Homo sapiens: one gene and its partners. The protein of the gene in region 4 interacts with the protein of the main gene of each other region in a pairwise test. Each region holds a gene or a part of one and is shown on either strand. Other genes may lie near its edges.

Region 1 (5,081 bases), on a different chromosome or scaffold from region 4:
TGCTTTCCTTACTCCCCTGTCAAAGGCTCGGGCATCAGCAGGGCTTTGGAAAGTAAGTCCAAACTTCCTATTATCGACCTTCCAGTGATGAAACGTTGGATTGGCTTTGGTGTAGACCAAGTCCTTTCTTACATAGCATTCCAATACCACCTGAAGGATGGAAACACACAGGCTGGTTACTAGTGGAACAGCCATGATGATGTCTGGTTACAGAAGTCTAATTAGGAACCATCACTGGTGGCAACTACCAAAACCCCTCTAACCCCTGCCTTCACATATCTGTGAGTCTCTCCAATGGGAAAGGAGGCTTTGCTTGGCTGCTGACCATCCGATCTTCGCTGCTCCCCACTGTCCTGGTTGTACCCCTTCACTACACTCTCTTCATCACGGTTATTCCTCTTCCTCCTGGCTGCAGGGCACTAAGTTGATGCTCAGGTCTTGGGTCTTGGCTGTATTTCAGATTACTGCTTTTATGTTGGGGTTTTTATATTGATGGTCATCTAGCTTCCCTCCCCCGAGGCTCCAAATTCCAAAAGTTGAAAAATTAACTTTACTCTAAAATTTCTCCTCTCCCAACTTCTGGCAATACCAATCCCTCTCCACTCTTTTTCTCTGGCTCATCATCTCTGTGGTCATCTTTGCCTCCTCTGCCTATCTCCTGTATTATTAATCACCAGGTCCATTTCATTTTTCCTTCAACAGCTTTTATATCAACCCCATTTCAGTTGCTGCCACCCTGATCTGGGTCTCTATTAACTTTATGTTTGGATTAATAGAACAATATTCAAGTTTCTAGCAATTTAATCTCAGAACTGGCTTTTACTGAGTTGTAATGAGTAGATTGATCTTTTTATCTCTAAGATGGAAAGAACACCAATGTTATCAATGAGAACAAGAACATGCTCTGAAAACACTGAATAAATGAGAAACCTAATTCACATTCATTGTCCAGTATATCTTCCCTGTCAAGTTTTATATGTACTCCAATTCTCCTTCTTGTCATCTTCACAATTTAGTACCTGATTTCAAACTATTCTTTAACAGTTTCATGTGTATTAGTCTTGTTCCCCTAACTAGACTACAAAAAGTCAAGATTATAAAATAACCCCGTCTAGCACAGTTGATAGAGATACTAGAATTTATTTAATATTATAGAAAAGAAACATTGCAATAATTTGAACGTAAACTTCATTCTTTATTCATTAAAAAACTCAGACTACTTACAATATTTATTCCTATGGCTTCATTACAAACACCATAATGATTTTGCTAAGTTTTAATAGCCCAATCTTGTTCTGGCAAAGATCTGCATTTACCGCAATGTGATCTTATTAATTTAGACTAAATGAAGGACAAGAGTAAAGACCTGCCTAAATTAGTATACAGATAAATTAGAGAATATCTTTAAATAAGTATAAATTCTAAGAATAGATCAAAGCAAAAAGAAGGAGGCCAGTACAGTGGCTCATGCCTGTAATCCCAGCACTTTTGGGGGCTGAGGCAAGAGGATCACTTGAGCCCAGGAGTTTGAGACCAGCCTGGGCAACATGGCAGGACCCTGTCTCTAACTAAAATACAAAAATTAGCTGGGTGTGGTGGCACACATCTGTAGTCCCAGCTACTCAGGAGATTGAGGTGGGAGGAACGCTTGAGCCTGGGAGGCTGAGGCTGCAGTGAGCTGAGAAGGTGCACCACTACACTCCAGCCCAGGTGACAGAGTGAGACTCTGTCTCAACAAAAGGAAAAAACAAACGAGAAATAAATTAAGGGTTGTCTAATGAATGTTCCCTAACTTAATAAAAAAATGAGAATAATATTCAAATTGGTATATCAAATAGTAGTCCCAAGCAGTTAACTTTATTACATTGTATTGAGATCGGACAACAGTTCCCTCCCATAATTCTATTTATGATTAAATTGCTTATTATAGCCATTTCCCCCTAAGAATAGCACAATGATTAAATGTCAGCCCAGCCCCATTCCACATTGGGGAAATCCAAATAATCAAGAATTTAACAAATGTTATCTATTTTAGAATTTAATAGTCTCAATTCAAAGTCTCAAAATAAACTTTTTGTATTCTAAAAACAAAGACTCCTAGTTTCTCCATATTTTGGGGGTGAAAAAATTAGTCTTTGGTTGATATTTTCCAACTTTGAAATTATTCCAAAGGTACATTTTCTTAGAAAAGTTTAAGTAAAATGGCCGGGCGCGGTGGCTCACGCCTGTAATACCAGCCCTTTGGGAGGCCGAGGCGGGCGGATCATGAGGTCAGGAGATCGAGACCATCGTGGCTAACACGGTGAAACCTCATCTCTACTAAAAATACAAAAAATTAGCCGGGCATGGTGGCGGGCACCTGTAGTCCCAGCTACTAGGGAGGCTGAGGCAGGAGAATAGCGTGAACCCGGGAGGCGGAGCTTGCAGTGGGCCGAGATCGTGCCACTGCAGTCCAGCCTGGGCGAAAGAGCAAGACTCTGTCTCAAAAAAAAAATAAAGTTTGAGTAAAATAAGTTCAGCCACCTAAATTAAGTGAGGGGGGAAATCAGATACCATCTCTTTATGTCCTCTAAAGCAAAATAGTATCATATGTATCTAAGTTTAAAGACAAAAATGAAAAGGTTTTAGATGCTTTAATCTTCCCAACAGATATAAACTCTCTGGTGAAGTTTTGGCACGCACACAATTAGACACTAACTTAAAACTTGAGAAAGGCTTTAAAAAATACCCGTTTAAATAAGATGCATACGGAGAAAAAAAGTGATTATGTTCTTGTTCGAGACTTGAAAAAAAAAACTACACAAGAAATACATGTTGTGGGAGATTTAAGTATTAGCTGAAGACATGAGGACTCCATTCCTACTCATCTCTCCCCTCCACCGTCAACATCCCTCTCTGTCGAGTTCCCCACTGTCAGTAGAGCGGGCACAATCCCAGTTTCCATTTTGTGGCTTCTTTACATATACACAGGTAAGTTTCTGTGTAAGGGCAACTGTGTTTAAATGTAGCCACACCTATAAGTTGTTTTTAACTTGCTTTTTATTTTCCTTAAAAATATGTCATAGAGATACAGGAAGGTAAAATAATTGTTTAATTCATCTGTATGGATGTATTAGATTTATTCAACCATTCTCCATACTAACGGACATTTATGTCAGTAAGAATTGGTCACCTTGAAGGCAATGCTGCAATTTACATCCTTATCTATATTTGAAGTATAAATTAGAATTCTAGACAGCTTCCTGGTACTTAAAGACTTTTCTAATGAGTCAGTGGCAATATTAAAAAATGTAGTTTTTTTGATATTAATGAGTCAGTGGCGATATTAAGAAATGTAGTTTTTTTATATTAATGAGTTAGTGGCAATACTAAGAAATGTAGTTTTTTGATATTATAGAATAAAATGTATCAACATTTGGAAGATCTGCTTAACTCAGTGGAGCACTATTTTTCAGGTGACCAGTGCATGATGTTACAAAATCAGGGATGAGTAAGAGATCTATTGAAAGTGAAAGAGTCCCTCTCCCTCTCCCGTCTCCCTCTCCCGTCTCCCGTCTCCCTCTCCCTCTCCCGTCTCCCTCTCCCTCTCCCGTCTCCCTCTCCCTCTCCCGTCTCCCTCTCCCGTCTCCCTCTCCCTCTCCCGTCTCCCTCTCCCTCTCCCGTCTCCCTCTCCCTCTCCCGTCTCCCTCTCCCTCTCCTTTCCACGGTCTCCCTCTCATGCCGGGCCAAAGCTGGACTGTACTGCTGCCATCTCGGCTCGCTGCAGCCTCCCTGCCTGATTCTCCTGCCTCAGCCTGCCGAGTGCCTGCGATTGCAGGCGCGCGCCGCCACGCCTGACTGGTTTTTGTGTTTTTTTGGTGGGGACGGGGTTTCGCTGTGTTGGCCGGACTGGTCTCCAGCTCCTAGCCGCGAGTGATCCGCCAGCCTCGGCCTCCCGAGGTGCCGGGATTGCAGACGGAGTCTCATTCACTCAGTGCTCAATGGTGCCCAGGCTGGAGTGCAGTGGCGTGATCTCGGCTCGCTACGGCCTCCACCTCCCAGCCGCCTGCCTTGGCCCCCCAAAGTGCGGAGATTGCAGCCTCTGCCCGGCCGCCACCCCGTCTGGGAAGTGAGGAGCGTCTCTGCCTGGCTGCCCATCGTCTGGGATGTGAGGAGCCCCTCTGCCTGGCTGCCCAGTCTGGAAAGTGAGGAGCGTCTCTGCCCGGCCGCCATCCCACCTGGGAAGTGAGGAGCGCCTCCTCCCGGCCGCCATCCCATCTAGGAAGTGAGGAGCGTCTCTGCCCGGCAGCCCATCGTCTGAGATGTGGGGAGCGCCTCTGCCCCGCCGCCCCGTCCGGGAGGTGAGGGGCGCCTCTGCCCGGCGGCCCCTACTGGGAAGTGAGGAGCCCCTCTGGCCGGCCAGCCGCCCCGTCCGGGAGGGAGGTGGGGGGCTCAGCCCCCCGCCGGGCCAGCCGCTCCGTCCGGGAGGGAGGTTGGGCGGGGGGTCAGCGCCCCCTCCCGGCCAGCCGCCCGGTCCAGGAGCTGAGGGGCGCCTCTGCCCGGCCGCCCCTACTGGGAGGTGGGGAGCCCCTCTGCCCAGCCACCACCCCGTCTGGGAGGTGTGCCCAACAGCTCATTGAGAATGGGCCATGATGACGATGGCGGTTTTCTGGAATGGAAGGGGGGGCAGGGTGGGGAAAGGATTGAGAAATCGGATGGTTGCCGTGTCTGTGTAGAAAGAAGTAGACATGGGCGACTTTTCATTTTGTTTTGTACCAAGAAAAATTCTTCTGCCTTGGGATCCTGTTGATCTATGACCTTACCCCCAACCCTGTGCTCTCTGAAACATGTGCTGTGTCCACTCAGGGTTAAATGGATTAAGGGCGGTGCAAGATGTGCTTTGTTAAACAGATGCTTGAAGGCAGCATGCTCGTTAAGAGTCATCACCACTCCCTAATCTCAAGTACCCAGGGACACAAACACTCTGCCTAGGAAAACCAGAGACCTTTGTTCACTTGTTTGTCTGCTGACCTTCCCTCCACTAGTGTCCTATGACCCTGCCAAATCCCCCTCTGTGAGAAACACCCAAGAATGATCAATAA
Region 2 (4,084 bases), on a different chromosome or scaffold from region 4:
AGAGGATCTATGATAATGTATCTTTAAGAAGATGCGTCATGCATCTATGATCCTATGAATCTGCTCTTTAAAAACAACAGAATATTCAAGGTGTCTTTAATTTTTTTTTTGAGACAGAGTCTTGCTCTATTGCCCAGGCTGGAGTACAGTGGCGTGATCATGGCTCACTGCAGCTTTGATCTCCTGGGCTCAGCCTCCTGGGTGGCTGGAACCACAGGCATGTGCCCCCGCATCCAGCTAATTTTTAAATTTTTTGTAGAGCTAGAGTCTCCCTATGTTGCCCAGGCTGGTCTTGAACTCCTGGGCTCAAGTGATCCTCTTGCCTCAGCCTCCCAAAGCACTGGGATTATAGGCATGAGCCACCACACCTAGCCAAGGTGTTATTTTAACAATGGAAAATGTAGTATATTTAGTTCATAAATCAAGAGCACAAACGGACTTAAAATATTTCAAGTATATTTTGAGCTACAAACATATTGGCATATAAGAGCAAACTATGCGGCTTTTATAAATGGAAGTGCATTGAAAAGCATAAAATGATGGAATACATATTGACAATGCAATATAATGTTAAGAAAAAGTTGCGTCTATCATGAACATTGCCCTTGAAACTTGTTTAGAAGCTGAATCTGCTGCAAAAAGGGCATTTGGGAAATCTGTGCTTCAGAATCCATCCTGCCTACCTATTTGCAACTTTAAATGATTGAGTTTAACTTTTAGGAAACCCAACATCCTAGAGAAGTCTTTCTGCTTCTTTGTCCTTCACAAGATCAACTGAAGTTCTCTAGCTGTGTAAAAAGGCTGAATTTCAGGTAATGAAAGAAAGTTAAACTGCTTTGGTTTTTTGAATTATTTTCTTGTTTAAATATAAGGTTTAAGTATAATGACAATTATTTTTAAATTTCTAAAATTAATTTTACTCAAAGATAGCATAACAATGTTAAGGAAAAGGAAATAATAATACAGTCATCCATGATACTGTTGCCAGCACCATAATTTTTATTAATGCATATTATCCTCCCATGTATTTTACATTCATATTTTACATATAATGATGACATTCATATAGCTTTTTTTTTTATATTCCAGAAAATGTTATTTACTTGTTACTGACAATGTCTCTTCTAGACGAGTCATCCTGTTTTTTCTCCCGCTGTTGTACTTTTGCTTTTCTTTTTCCACCTACTCAGATCCTTCACTTCCTCACCCCTACTCCTATATCACCATGTCAGGTAATGCATATTAACAACTTGGTAAATATCCTTCAGTTGCTTTCTTCATCTCCTTTCCCAGGTGCCCACATGCATCCCTCACATACATCCTTCTCGGTATTCTGTTTTGTTCACTTTGCACGGGAATCCTTCTAAGTCAACCTTTAAACATCAAACTCATTTTTAAATGAATGCATAATGTTCTATATTATGCATGAATCATAATTTATTCAACTATTCTATTGATGGGCATGCACTCTGTTTTTCCTTCTAGAGTGTGGCAATAAATAATCTTGTGCATTTCCTTTCATTTCCTTGGTGTAGATATCAGTAGTAGAATTGAGGTCAAATATGCATATTTAATTTGAACAGATATCAGCTCTACAATGCACATTTCCATCAGCAATAAATGATTCATTTCTTGCCCTTTACCTCTCTTCTGGGACTGTAGTGTTCTCTGAAGTTTTCGTCCATGTGTTGGGCTCGTTGGTACTTTGATTCGTATTTCTCTGGCTACAGTTAGAGCATCTTTTTATGTTGATGGGCCATTTGGATTTGTTCTTATCTAAACTGCCTAGTTATATATCTTTCAACCATTTATCTTTTGAATAGTTTACCTTTTTTTTTTTTTTTTTTTTTAAACGGAGTATCACTCTTGTTGCCCAGGCTGGAGTGCAATGGCACCATCTTGGCTCACTGCAACTTTCGCCTCCTAGGTTCAAGCAATTCTCCTGCCTCAGCCTCCTGAGTAGCTAGGATTACAGGCATGCACCACCACACCCAGCTAATTTTGTATTTTTAGTAGAGATGGGGTTTCTCCACGTTGGCCAGGCTAGTCTCAAACTCCTGACCTCAGGTGATCCACCCGCCTCGGCCTCCCAAAGTGTTGGGATTACAGGCATGATCCACCGTGCCTGGCCGTGAATAGTTTAATCTTTTATCTGTGCTATACTTTCCCAAATTTGACTTTGCAATATATTTTGCCAAATTTTAAATTTATATATACAGTCTGTGACTTACAGTTTTACTTATAATTTTTCAGCTTTGTGATGGATTTATCAGGGTATTAAATGCATTTTCGACTTACATTTTTGACTTCTGATGGGCTTATTGGGACATAACCCCATTGTAAGCTGAGAAGCATCTGTGTGTACACACACACACACTTATTATTTACTTGAAATATATATCTTAAATATAGCTTCATTTTTAAAAATTAGCTAAGAAGGTCTACCCTATCTCTAGATTTCTAGTCTCTTAGATTTTCTTCTAAGACTTCTACTGTTTTACTTTATAGCTTGAAAACATTTTAATATATCTGGAAAGTGCTTTTTGCATGATATAGGGGTTGAACTTTTATTGTCTTTAGACAGATAGTTAGTTGTGCTAGCATTTTACTGATACTATTTTCTATTGAAATATATTTTTGTCGGCCGGGCACAGTGGCTCACACCTGTAATCCCAGTACTTTGGGAGGCTGAGGCGGGCAGATGACCTGAGGTTGGGAGTTCGCAACTAGCCTGACCAACATGGAGAAACCCCATCTCTACTAAAATACAAAATTAGCCCAGGCGTGGTGGCACATGCCTGTAATCCCAGCTACTCGGGAGGCTGAGGCAGGAGAATCACTTGAACCTGGGAGGCGGAGGTTGTGGTGAACCAAGATCGTGCCATTATACTCCAGTCTGGGCAACAAGAGGGAAACTGTCTCAAAAAAAAAAAAAAAAAAAAGAAAGAAAAAGAAATATATTTTTGTCACGTATAAACGTCATATACTGGAATCTAGTTCTGGACTCAGTTCTACTCTACTCTTTCACTTGAACTTTAAGATCATTTTGCTTAATTTCTTTTCTTTTTTCTTTTTCTTGAGATAGAGATTTGCTCTGTCACCCAGGCTGGAGTGCAGTGGTACAATCTCAGCTACTGCACCCTCTGCCTCCTGGGTTCAAGCGATTCTCCTGCCTCAGCCTCCAGAGTAGCTGGGATTACAGGCACCTGCCACCATGCCTGGCTAATTTTTGTATTTTTAGTAGAGACGGGGTTTCACCATGTTAGCCAGGATGGTCTCCATCTCCTGACCTCGTGATCCGCCCCCCTCGGCCTCCGAAAGTGCTGGGATTACAGGTGTGAGCCACCGTGCCCGGCCCATTTTGCTTAATTTCAATTTCAAAACCTCACCCAAGTCTGGCACGGTGGCTCATGCCTATAATCCACTTTGGGAGGCCAAGGTGTGACACTTGCTTGAGCCCAGGAGTTCAAGACCAACATCCAGTCTATTAAAAAATCAAAAACAAAAACAAAGCCTCAGCCAGTTGAAATTTAAATTGTAATCATTATACATTAACATGCTAATTTGGGGGAATTGATATTTTTATGATATTATCTTCCCAGTGTATTTGTTCAGATCTTGATTTATGTCCTTCAATAAGAGTTTATAATAGTTCTTTCTTAGCCTTATACCTTAAGGCATTTAGTTTTTATCTGTCGTGTTTACTATATCAACTTGTAGGTATTTTTTATAAATATAAAGAAAAGCTATTGATTTTTGGCATGCTTATCTTATATCCAGCCAAGTTCCTGAATACTTCTAATAGATTTTTTTGAGCTTTCAAGGTATTCACTTATAATACAAGCAAAAGTAATTTTATTTTCCAGTGTCTATATTTAACATTTCATTCTTTTGATATAATGCATTCATTAGCTCTATTAGGAGACTCAGCCCCTATTTCATAGCATTGCTGAGGGTTGAACAACACATGTAAAGTGCTTAGAGCAATGGTGGCACATCTTAGGGTGTCCAAGAAATAACTAGTATTATTTCCCAACTATCAGAGCTTATCAGATCTTTAATCTAGAAATGTCACTTTCAAGCA
Region 3 (5,081 bases), on a different chromosome or scaffold from region 4:
GCTGGAATAAATGGTTAAATGTAACAGTGGCTTTGAAATTGGATCAGGGCTGGAATAATTTTTTTTTTTTTTTTTTTTTTTTTTTTTCAGATAGGGTCTTGCTGTCTCCCAGGCTGGAGTGCAGTGGCCCAATCTCAGCTCACTGCAGCCTCAATCTCCTAGGCACAAGCGATCCTCACACCTCAGCCTCCTGGGTAGCTGGAACTATAGGCCTGCGCCAGCATGCTGGGCTAATTTTTGTATTTTTTGTAGAGGCAGGGTTTCACTATGTTGCCCGGGCTGGTCTTGAACTCCTGAGCTCAAGCAATCTGTCCATGTTGGCCTCTCAAAGTGTTAGGATTACAGATGTGAGGCACTGTGCCTGGCCAAAGCTGCAAGAATTTTGAGGTGTATGTTAGGAAAAACCTAGACTGCCTTGAAGAGACTGCTGGTAGAAATATGGACATTAAAGGGAATGTCCCTGCAGGCTCACAAAGAGGAGAGGTGCAGAGAAATCTCCTATCATCTTAACAGGATGCATATATTGTTATGAACAGAAGGCTGCTAGAAATATGAATATTAAAGGTGTTTCTGGTGAGGTCTCTGGAGGAAATGAGGAATGTGTTATTGGTAACTGGAATAAAAGTTTCCAATAAAGGTGGCGCAATCATGGCTCACTACAACCTTGATCTCCCAGGCTCAAGCAATCCTCCTGCCTCAGCCGCCTGGGGAGCTAGGATTACAGGTGCTGGGGTTACAGGTGTGAGCCACTGCACCTGGCCCAATTTCTCACTTTTGAAATGGGAATGTCTATCCTATGTCTGTCCCATCACTGTATTTTAGAAGCAAATAACTTATTTTCTAGATTTCACGGGTCCGCAGAGAGAGAGAGAGAGGAATTTTGTCCCAGAATGGACCATACCAAGTCTCATCCAAAACTGATTTAATGATTTAGAAAATAAGATTGGGACTTCTTGAGTTGATTATATTTAAATGAGATTTTGGGCTTAAGAGTTGATGCTGGGATGGGTTAAGACTTGTAGGGATATTGGAATGGGATGTATATATTTTGCAGATGGGAAGGCCATGAATTTGGTGGGGGCTAGAGAACAGTGTGTTAAGGGTTGAACTGTATTCCCCTGAAAAGGCACTTTGTGGTCCTAACCCCTAGTAAATGTGAATGTAACCTTATTTAAAGTAGGGACTTTGCAGATATAATCAAGTTGAGATGAGGTTGTGCTTGGTTAGAGTGGGGCTAGCCCAACATGACCTATGTCTTTCCAAGAAGAGAGACGAACACAGACAGAGACACATGGAGAACACCGTGTGATCACAGAGGGAGAGACTGGAGTGACACAGCTGCAAGCCAAGGAACTCTGGCCACCAGCAGAAGCTAGAAAGAGGTAAGGAAGGTTTCCACTCAGATTCTCAGACGGAACCAGGCCCTGCCAACACCTTCAATTCAGACTTCTAGGCTCCAGAAGTGTACAGGAATAGGTTTCTATTGTTTTAAGCCACCCAATTTGTGTATTTCGTTAACAGTAGACTTAAGAAATGAATGCAGCAGGCCAGGCGCGGTGGCTCACACCTGTAATCCCAACACTTTGGGAGGCCAAGGTGGGTGGCTCACTTGAGGTCAGGAGTTTGAGACCAGCCTGGCCAACATGGTGAAACCCTGTCTCTACTAAAAATGCAAAAATTAGCCCAGCACGTGCACCTGTAATCCCAGCTACACGGGAGGCTGAGGAAAGAGAATCACTTGAAACTCGGAAGGCAGAGGCTGCAGTGAGCCAAGATCATGCCAGACTTCAGCCTGGGCGACAGGGCGAGACTCTATCTCAAAAAAAAAAAAAAAAAAAAAATGACTGCACCAAGTTGCTTATTCCACCTCTCTAGAACTCAATCTTCTTATTGCCAAATGAGGATAACAACAGTGCTTTGTGGCCCACATCAGATTGTTGTGAAATTAAATAAGATCCTGAATGTGAGGAAATTATCCTCAGCACGGGGACTAGCACTTAGCCGTGTGGCCTTCATTGTTATTTTGATGGGTTTTATTGATTACCGTCTAAGGGTCCTTTCTGTTTTAATCAGAAGGAGTCAGGAGACCGAGGGAGCACCCAGACTAGGGCAGAGGGTACCAGTAGAAGCGGGGAGGGAAGTTGAACGATGGGTTTTCCCACTACCTAGGATGGCTGGGAACCCAAGAACATGGAGGGCAGTGTCTCCTGCAAGTCAAGATTAGGGGAATCCATCCTCCATTAACTGACAAGAGAGACAAGAGGCAGCAGAGGACAGGGTGAGGGGCGTGGAGAGCCATCTCTCCCACTCACTCGAGACAGTGAGACTTCCAGTGTCTGGTGTTTCTCCTTTCCCTGCACCCGGAGCTGGAGCTGTTGGGACGTCTCTGTGGCCTCTGGAGAACTTGTTAGTACCACACAGTCTGTGGGAGGCAGAATCAGGAAGCCAGGGCTAAGTGGGGGCTTGGAAGCAGGGCCCGTGCTGAACCTCTCCCCATATCCCCTTCCCCTGGCAAATGCCTCAAGGCCCCACCTCCCTGCCTTCCTCTCACCAATGATGTCAGCCACTCCGAGCTTTAGGGTCCTGGGAGTGGCAGTAGGTGATAGCTCTGTCTCTCCAAAAAGCAAAAGGATCCTGCTTGGGGACACCCCAAGGTGGGTGGCCATGTGGTCCACCACACTCTGCAGGGGCTCCGACTAGGGATGGGGACAACAAGCAAAAGAGGTCTTCCTGCCTTGAAATCCATGCCCCCAGCCACACCACCCAAACACAAGCTCTGGCCTTAGCTACTTGCTAAGCTCCTCAGCTGTGAGTTTCATCATATTTACCTGGCAAGGTATAGAATAAAATCGTGTCAGCAAGGGGTACAGGCGAGTAACACAAAGAAATATAGCAGCCATGGGTTAGAACAAAGAAAGGGGTGGTGGGGATTGCAGCAAACTGGAATTCACATGCCACCTAGACAGGCTGGCTGTTACGCAGCTCCAGCTGATTGGCACTGTGTGGGAACGTGGGCCAGTATGACATCTTCCTATATTTTTCTTTTTTTTTTTTTTGAGACGGAGTTTCGCTCTTGTTAACCAGGATGGAGTGTAGTGGCGCAATCTCAGCTCACTGCAACCTCCGCCTCCCAGGTTCAAGTGATTCTCCTACCAGGCTGGTCTTGAACTCTTGAATTCGGGTGATCCACCTGCCTCGGCCTCCCAAACTACAGGGATAACAGGTGTGAGCCACCGCACCTGGCCACATCTTCTTATTTTTTAAGAGAAGCCAGAAATCTGGACCTTTTTTTTTTCTTTCTATTTTTAGTAGAGGCGGGCTTCACCATATTGGCCAGGCTGGTCTTGAACTCCTGATCTCAGGTGAGATCTGAGGCAGAGTCTCGCTCTTTCATCCAGGCTGGAAGGCAGTGGCACCATGCCCAGCTAATTTTTGTATTTTTAGTAGAGATGGGGTTTCACCATGTTGGCTAGGCTGGTCTCGAACTCCTGACCTCAGGTGATCTGCCTGCCTTCACCTCCCAAAAGTGCTGGGATTACAGGCGTGAGGCACTGCACCCGGCCAGAAATCTGGACCTTTGTATGAAATCACCCATCACAAAGGTGACAACAAACTCGTATATTTTTAAAGCACTTGGTCAGGCATGATGGCTCACACCTATAATCCCAGCATTTTGAGAGGCCGAGGCGGGAGGTTTGCTTGAGGTCAGGAGTTCAAGATCAGCCTGAGCAACAAAGCAAGATCCCATCTCCATTTTTTTTTTTTTTTAAGAGACAAGGTCTTGCTCTCTCACCCAGGCTGCAGTGCAGTGGCATGATCACAGCTGACTGCAGCCCCCAACTCCTGGACTCAGAAGATCCTCTTGCATCAGCCTCCCAAGTCGCTGGGACTACAGGTATGTGCCACCATGCCTGGTTAATTTTTTTATTTTTAGTAGAGACAAGGTCTCACTATTTTGCCCAGGCTGGTCTCGAACTCCTGGCCTCAAGTGATCCTCTCACCTTGGCCTCCCAAAGTGCTGGGATTACAGGAATGAGCCACCATGCCTGGCCCCCATCTCTATGTTTAAAAAATAAAATAGGCCAGGCACGGTGGCTCATGCCTGTAATCCCAACACTTTGGGAAGCTGAGACAGGGGAACACTTGAGATCAGGAGTTCAAGACCAGCCTGGCCAATATGGTGAAGCCCTGCCTCCACTAAAAATACATAAATTAGTCGGGCATGGTGGCGGGCACCTGTAGTCCAAGCTACTCGGGAGGCTGAGGTGGGAGAATCGCCTGAACCTGGGAGGCGGAGGTTTCAGTGAGCAGAGATCGTGCCACTGCACTCCAGCCTAGGCGACAGAGTGAGACCCCGTCTCAAAAAATAAAAATAATAAAAAATAATAAAATAAAATAAAATAAGTCTACAAAGAAAGCAGACACACTGTTGGAAAAGCCATGGGCTGCCAGTTTGCAGCCTCTGCCTTAGTTGCTTGACTGATGCACTGTGCATCAGTAATGGTAATGTCTGTTATCATTCCTGGTGTTGAAACAGGGTCATCCCTACAAAAATATCAGGCTTCGCCAGGAAGCTGGTGGAGTTCAGGGTGACTGAGTGACATCTGCTGTGTCCAGGGCAGTGAGAGCAAGCCCAGGAGGGAAGCCCAGGTTCCTAGGGAGGAAGGCAAGAGAGACTACCAAAAAAAGCTTCTTAGAAGACAGGATGCTTCACACCTGGAATCCCAGCACTTTGGGAGGTCAATGAGGGACGATCACTTGAGCCCAGGAGTTCGGAACCAGCCTGGACACAGTAAGACCACTTTTTGAAGGAAAAAAAAAGACACAGGATGCTTATGAGGAGCCTTGAAGAATGGGTAGAAAGTTTGCCAGAAAGAGAGGGGAGCGTTGGGAAAATGCAGACAGAGGAAACAAAAAGTGTGAAGGCAGGACAGACTGAAAAGAATGATGGGCAGCTCTAGAGAGCAGGATGGGAAAAGGATGACAGTCCCTTCTGCCAGGACACCCCTGCTGGACACCACCATCTCTCCAGAAGCAGCTCCTGGGTCCTTCTCCCATGGGCCTCAGGCACTCACCATCCT
Region 4 (5,456 bases):
CATATGCACTTGGAAACCAAAAGATTCATCTGACTCGCTTTATTGCAAGATTCACTTTATTGCAGTGGTCTAGACTAGAACCTGCAATATCTCTGAATAATGCCTGTATAGAGCTAGGGCCCACAGCATTGTTTCCTGGACCACAATAGGCAGGGTATGGTTCTAGGGTCCCCCAAATAGCAGGATTTTTCTTACTGTAACTGTGTCTTGACCAGAGCAGTGGCTGTATGGCCCTAGACCGGTGGACTTCTGATCACAGAAGAGGCAGAAACTCCCTTGGGGGCCTGGTACTGGGACATTCTGCTGGAAGCTCAAACTCCCTCACAACCATTAAATACTATTAAATGTTCAGTAACAAATTCCTTTCCACTTAAAAAAAGTGATTAGAGGAGTAAACGGGAGAACTATGTAACTAAAGACAATCTTTACTGACAGCTGATTTTTTGTTGTTGTTGTTGTTGTTGCATTTTTAGTAAAGATGGGGTTTTGTCATGTTTCCAAGGCTGGTCTCAAACTCCTGGGCTCAAGCAGTCTGCTCAGCCTCGGCCTCCAAAGCGCTGGGATTACAGGTGTGAGCCACAGTGCCCAGCCAACAGCTGATATTGTAAATACTCAAAGCCATAAAAGTGAAGGTGAAAACAATATGTCATTCAACAATAAAAAATATTTCTTAACAGTAAATACATTATTAAAACTTTATTTTAAATGCATTTTGAAAATGGAAAAAAATGTCAGTTTTCACTGAATACCACACCTACCACCAGACTACTCTAAACATATTCTAACAACAAAGACGGTGATGAGAACAAAGGAAGTCAATTTGTAGGTTGCCATGAAAAATAAGAAATAATTCGTTCCATAAACCAATCCTCCCCCCAGAAAAATCTTCTTATATAAGACCTTTCAATTTACATGTATTTATTGACTAACAAACCACACCTAGAAATAAACTGTTTGGAATAAAGATATACTATTTGCATAAAACAAATGACCTATTCTAGGTGTCTCTTTTTTTAATTTTTTTTTTATTTTTTTTAGAGACAGGGTCTCACTCTGTCACCAGGTGGGAGTGCGGTGGCATCATCACAGCTCACTGCAGCCTCGAAATCCTAGACTCAAGCCATCCTCCAGGCCCAAGCAATCCTCCTGCCTTAGCCTCCCAAGTAGCTGGGATTACAGGTGCGTGCCACCAAGCCCAACTAATTTTTTTTAAATTTTTTGTAGTGACAGGGTCTCACTATATTGATCAGGCTGGTCTTGAACTCCAGGTCTCAAGCAATCTTCCCACCTTGGCCTCCCAAAGTGCTGAGACTACAAGTATGAGCCACTGTGCCGGTATCATATCACTTTACTATATGGTCCAGCAGTTAGATATAAAGGCAATACAAGATTAGGAATTCATTACATTTTAGAAGTATAACAATTTTTCATAAACACATCTATTCAACTTTTCCAACCATAATATAAGGACATATGTCTTTGTTATGATTATAACCATAATAAAATGTATAGTAATTCACCTAGGTAAATATAAGGATATAGGGGAAATATTTCAACAATTTAAAAAAACAATTTTAAGCATGCTAGGAAGAACATTTTTAATTTTGCCAATTTTTTGAATCTGTATTTAAAGATCTTTTTGCAACTCACATTATTTGTAGTCCATAATATAACCCCCCAAGCCTCTTGTGCCTTTTTCTGCCTGAGAAACTATGGCTTGCTGGCTCTCCCCACACTCCAAAGAAAGTCATAAAAACTAACTCAAATGTAGGAACCATTAAATTTTGAATATGGAAATCACAGGGCAAAGGAAAAGGAGAATTCAAGCAGAGGAAGTGGAAATGGCAGAAGTGGGAAGCAGCCCATTAAGACAAAACTGGGCCAAGGCAGAGTGGGTGACAGGGCCTGTCATCAGAACAAACTGACAACAGGAGATGTGTTTCCCACCCCTGAAGGTCCTAAGAATAGAGAAGTAAGTGAAATGAAACTAACACTGGGCCTGCTACCATACATTTACAAAGGTATTTTCATTTACTCCTCAAGGCAACTTTATGAGTTGCGACAACTACAGTCTGAATAAAATGAGCAACTCAACCAAGGTCATAAAGTAGGCAATGACAACCCTGGAGTTTTCTGCCTAGTCTTTTCCACATCATGGTAAACACAGATAATGATAATATATGTGCAGCAGGGTCAGATAAAGAGAAGAGACTGCTTGTAGCTGGTGGCAACTAGCCAGGAATTCTGATTGTCCCAGGTCCTACCTGGGCTTCCCCGAGGGCTAAGGGGTCAAAAGTCCAGCACACACAAAACCCACTCCTGACTAGAGCTGAGAAAGTGTACTGTGTAATTTTTTCACAAAGCTGTTGCATTTTCCATTCTGCTCTATGCTACTCAGTAGCTACACCCAGGTAAGTCTACAGCTAATTCTTTTCAGAGCAAAGGTCAGAAGTACCTCTACCCCAGGCCAAACATACCTTGACTGTAGGCCCTCTGCTAAAGCACAGGCTCTTTCCAATATTTTTTACTGGGGCGGGGGAGAGTCTTTTTTGAAAGACTAAGTTAATGTTTCCTAAAAAGAAAAAAATTTGCCCAACCCCTTGCTTATGTCAAAAATTCCCTCTAAAGTAGACAAAGGTAGTCATACCAGTAGGCTTAAAATAAAAACTACTAGACAAAGAAACATATGAGTAAGTTTTGGTATGTTTCTTTGTCTAGTAGTTTTCATTTAGTAAAGACAAATGACTGACATTAGATTCTATGTCGCTTTAGTCAGAAGCAGGGAGCCACAGACAGGCATTCATTCAATGTCACAGGATAGGAGTGGGATCCTCCAGAAGCAAAGAATGGTGAAGAAACCTGAAAACATGGATAAACCTAAAAGAGGTTCTTATGCTGACAAACTCTGAAATGAAACACAAAATTTGGGAATGGACAGCTGGGTATTATTCTGAGGGAACTGTGGAAGATCAACAAATTGTCACAAGAGTCTAAGCACAAAAATAATTATAAAACGCTGTTGTGGAAAATTCCGAATCAACCCAAACATCAATGGCATAGCACCACATTTAGACCTCTGGTATTATTTTCTAGAGTGGGGGAAAGCTACCAACCTATTTGTATAAATAAAGCTTTATTTGAACACACCTATGCCCACTTGGTCAGATACTGTATTTGGCTACAATGGCAGCAGATGCAATCACAGGGCTCACAAAGCCAGAAATATTTACCATGTGATCCTTCAGAGAAAAAAATTGTGAATCACTATTCTATAAAAAAGCAGACTGGATTGAAAAAGTAGCCCTTACCCACTACCAACAGAAGACTACTAATAAGATTTACAAAAAGGCCTATTTCCATTATGTAACAGAAAACACGTATTTCTCAATTTTTATAGACCACTAAAATCAGTTTTATTCATTTATATATTGTTCCGCTTAACACTTTGATAGCTATTACAACAAAACCACTCATTGTATAACCTCATTACCTAAATAGTATGGCAGGGCAGTTATTTTGACAAAGGTTAAAAAAGAAGTTATCCTGCTCAAAAATATTAAGGAATGCTTCATGATCATCTGTCCTTCTCATTCCCACTGCCCACTGAAAAGCATGAAATATACTCTGTAAGTGTTTTCTTCAGAATAAAAAAAATTTTGTGAAAATACACAACACCTAGGAATAATCAAACTATTAATTACCAAAGGAGAATTCAGCAGTTTAGAAGTTTTATAACTCTGAGATTGAATTGTATCAATTTAAAAATTCTGAACTGCCATTATATTATACAAATGCATATATTTGATTACAATTATGTAACCAAATGTTATTCATCCATATTCCCTACAAAAATGGGTGGAGGGGGGAGAATTAAATTGAAAAAGTCTCAAAAGGGTAAAGAAATGCGTCTTAAAACATCTTGCTATATATTTACATAAATCCTGATGAAGTGCTGATAAAACAATTCGGAGCAAACAGTAATCATACATGGCATTTCCAAGACACCCTTAAGTCGTACATTAAGTTTAATATGTTTTATAGACGATGCACTGAAATACCTACCCTCGTAGTTTTCCAACAAAAATTCGAAGGGGTAAACACTTAAATGTGAATGAAACCGGGAATGAGGACAGAGTGCTGTTTTGTGCAGCTGCAGCTGCAGCTACACTGTGTATTTTTTAAATACTACACTGTGCATTTTTAAAATACCAAAGCCTATTTAAAAAAAAAAAAAAATCAAGGGAAACAAAACCTGAAAGAAATTTTGGAATTACCTACTTTTTTTTTCCCCAAAAGTGCGTAATCACTAACACTTAACTGGGCCCTGCTCTCAGGCCCAGTTCTCAGGTACCCTGAATGGTGGCGACATTTGTAATACTACAGAGGTACATTCTTAAAACATCAGATAGTTCCTAGGAAAATAGTGTTTAGTTCTGGAAACACTGTAAAAGTCTCTAATGATATCTCAGACCACATATTTAAGTGAAAAAAAGAAGTCTATATTTCAGTAAATGCGCAATAATTGAGGGGAAAAAAAAAGAATACTTAAATGTTTACAGTAAGTCAGAGCCCAAAACTATCAACTGCAAGCACCAGGAAAGATTTGGGGCATGAGGTCCTTATGAGATTAAGTACTTATTTACACAAACTGTAACTGCACTGGACTTCTGGTCATTACGATGCAATTTTTTTTTAAATTTATTAATCAGGTATGTTAGCTATAGAGGCATCAAATCTCCCCTCCTCTACTAGTACACTGCCATCATACCATATGTGCTTTCCTCATTCTTTGGGTAAGTGCTGTTTTACTGGGATGGAAATGAACTCGAAATTGTCCAGACAGGAAAATATGAAAGGGGGAAAGCAATGGTGGGTGCTACATGTATTATCTAAATAAATAAACCTAAATACTAGTTCAGACTATAAAATGAGTCTGTACGCTTAGAAATAAAGTTAGTCTTGTTAAATTGGTAAGATTTTTAACCATGGAAAGATTCCCAAGAAGTTGTGAAAACGCCTAACGATTTAGATTCTGACATTTAGTGGTTTTCATTTTCAGGTAATTTCAGAGTAAAACCCGCCTCAGTCACATGGACTATATTTAGTCTGCTGACCAACTTCGCTTCTAATCTACTATAAACTTTCAGTAGTAGTTAAGTTCTAGGTGCAGCTGAATCACGAAACGGGACACCTAGGATGGCTCAGGGAAAACTGAAGCCCCCCTCCTCCTTCCTTCCTTCCTTCCTTTCTTTCTTTCTCCAGGCTGGCCCTCAGCCTGGCGCCCCTTCCGCAGACATCCCTAGAAAAAGAACTAACGCGGCCTTCTCCGAGCCCAGGGCTGGAGTAGGAAGTACCCGCCCTCCCGAACGCGAGGTCCTGGCTGCGCATTGGCTGCGAAGGCCGTCAGTACTCCGGAGGGCGGAGCCTCCCGGCACCCAGCGGAATTTCAGGCCCGC

Evidence for each region. Proteins that work in one complex are often made in the same cells at the same time.
Region 1: the proteins of NEK7 (region 4) and SPRED2 interact in binary tests that used the Homo sapiens proteins (3 or more experiments, as listed by UniProt).
Region 2: the proteins of NEK7 (region 4) and RAP1B interact in binary tests that used the Homo sapiens proteins (3 or more experiments, as listed by UniProt).
Region 3: the proteins of NEK7 (region 4) and NFATC2IP interact in binary tests that used the Homo sapiens proteins (3 or more experiments, as listed by UniProt).

What each region holds. Positions count from the first base shown.
Region 1 is NC_000002.12:65,334,624-65,339,704, forward strand, and holds part of SPRED2 (sprouty-related, EVH1 domain-containing protein 2), read right to left. Parts: intron 151-5,081; coding exon 1-150. UniProt on the Homo sapiens protein: Negatively regulates Ras signaling pathways and downstream activation of MAP kinases. Recruits and translocates NF1 to the cell membrane, thereby enabling NF1-dependent hydrolysis of active GTP-bound Ras to inactive GDP-bound Ras.
Region 2 is NC_000012.12:68,668,794-68,672,877, reverse strand, and holds the end of RAP1B (ras-related protein Rap-1b isoform 1 precursor), read right to left. Parts: 3' UTR 977-4,084; downstream 1-976. UniProt on the Homo sapiens protein: GTP-binding protein that possesses intrinsic GTPase activity. Contributes to the polarizing activity of KRIT1 and CDH5 in the establishment and maintenance of correct endothelial cell polarity and vascular lumen.
Region 3 is NC_000016.10:28,956,332-28,961,412, reverse strand, and holds part of NFATC2IP (NFATC2-interacting protein), read right to left. Parts: coding exon 5,076-5,081; intron 2,831-5,075; exon of another isoform or gene 2,752-2,830; intron 2,697-2,751; coding exon 2,552-2,696; intron 2,423-2,551; coding exon 2,313-2,422; intron 1-2,312. UniProt on the Homo sapiens protein: In T-helper 2 (Th2) cells, regulates the magnitude of NFAT-driven transcription of a specific subset of cytokine genes, including IL3, IL4, IL5 and IL13, but not IL2.
Region 4 is NC_000001.11:198,159,094-198,164,549, reverse strand, and holds part of NEK7 (serine/threonine-protein kinase Nek7), read right to left. Parts: intron 1-5,456. UniProt on the Homo sapiens protein: Protein kinase which plays an important role in mitotic cell cycle progression. Required for microtubule nucleation activity of the centrosome, robust mitotic spindle formation and cytokinesis.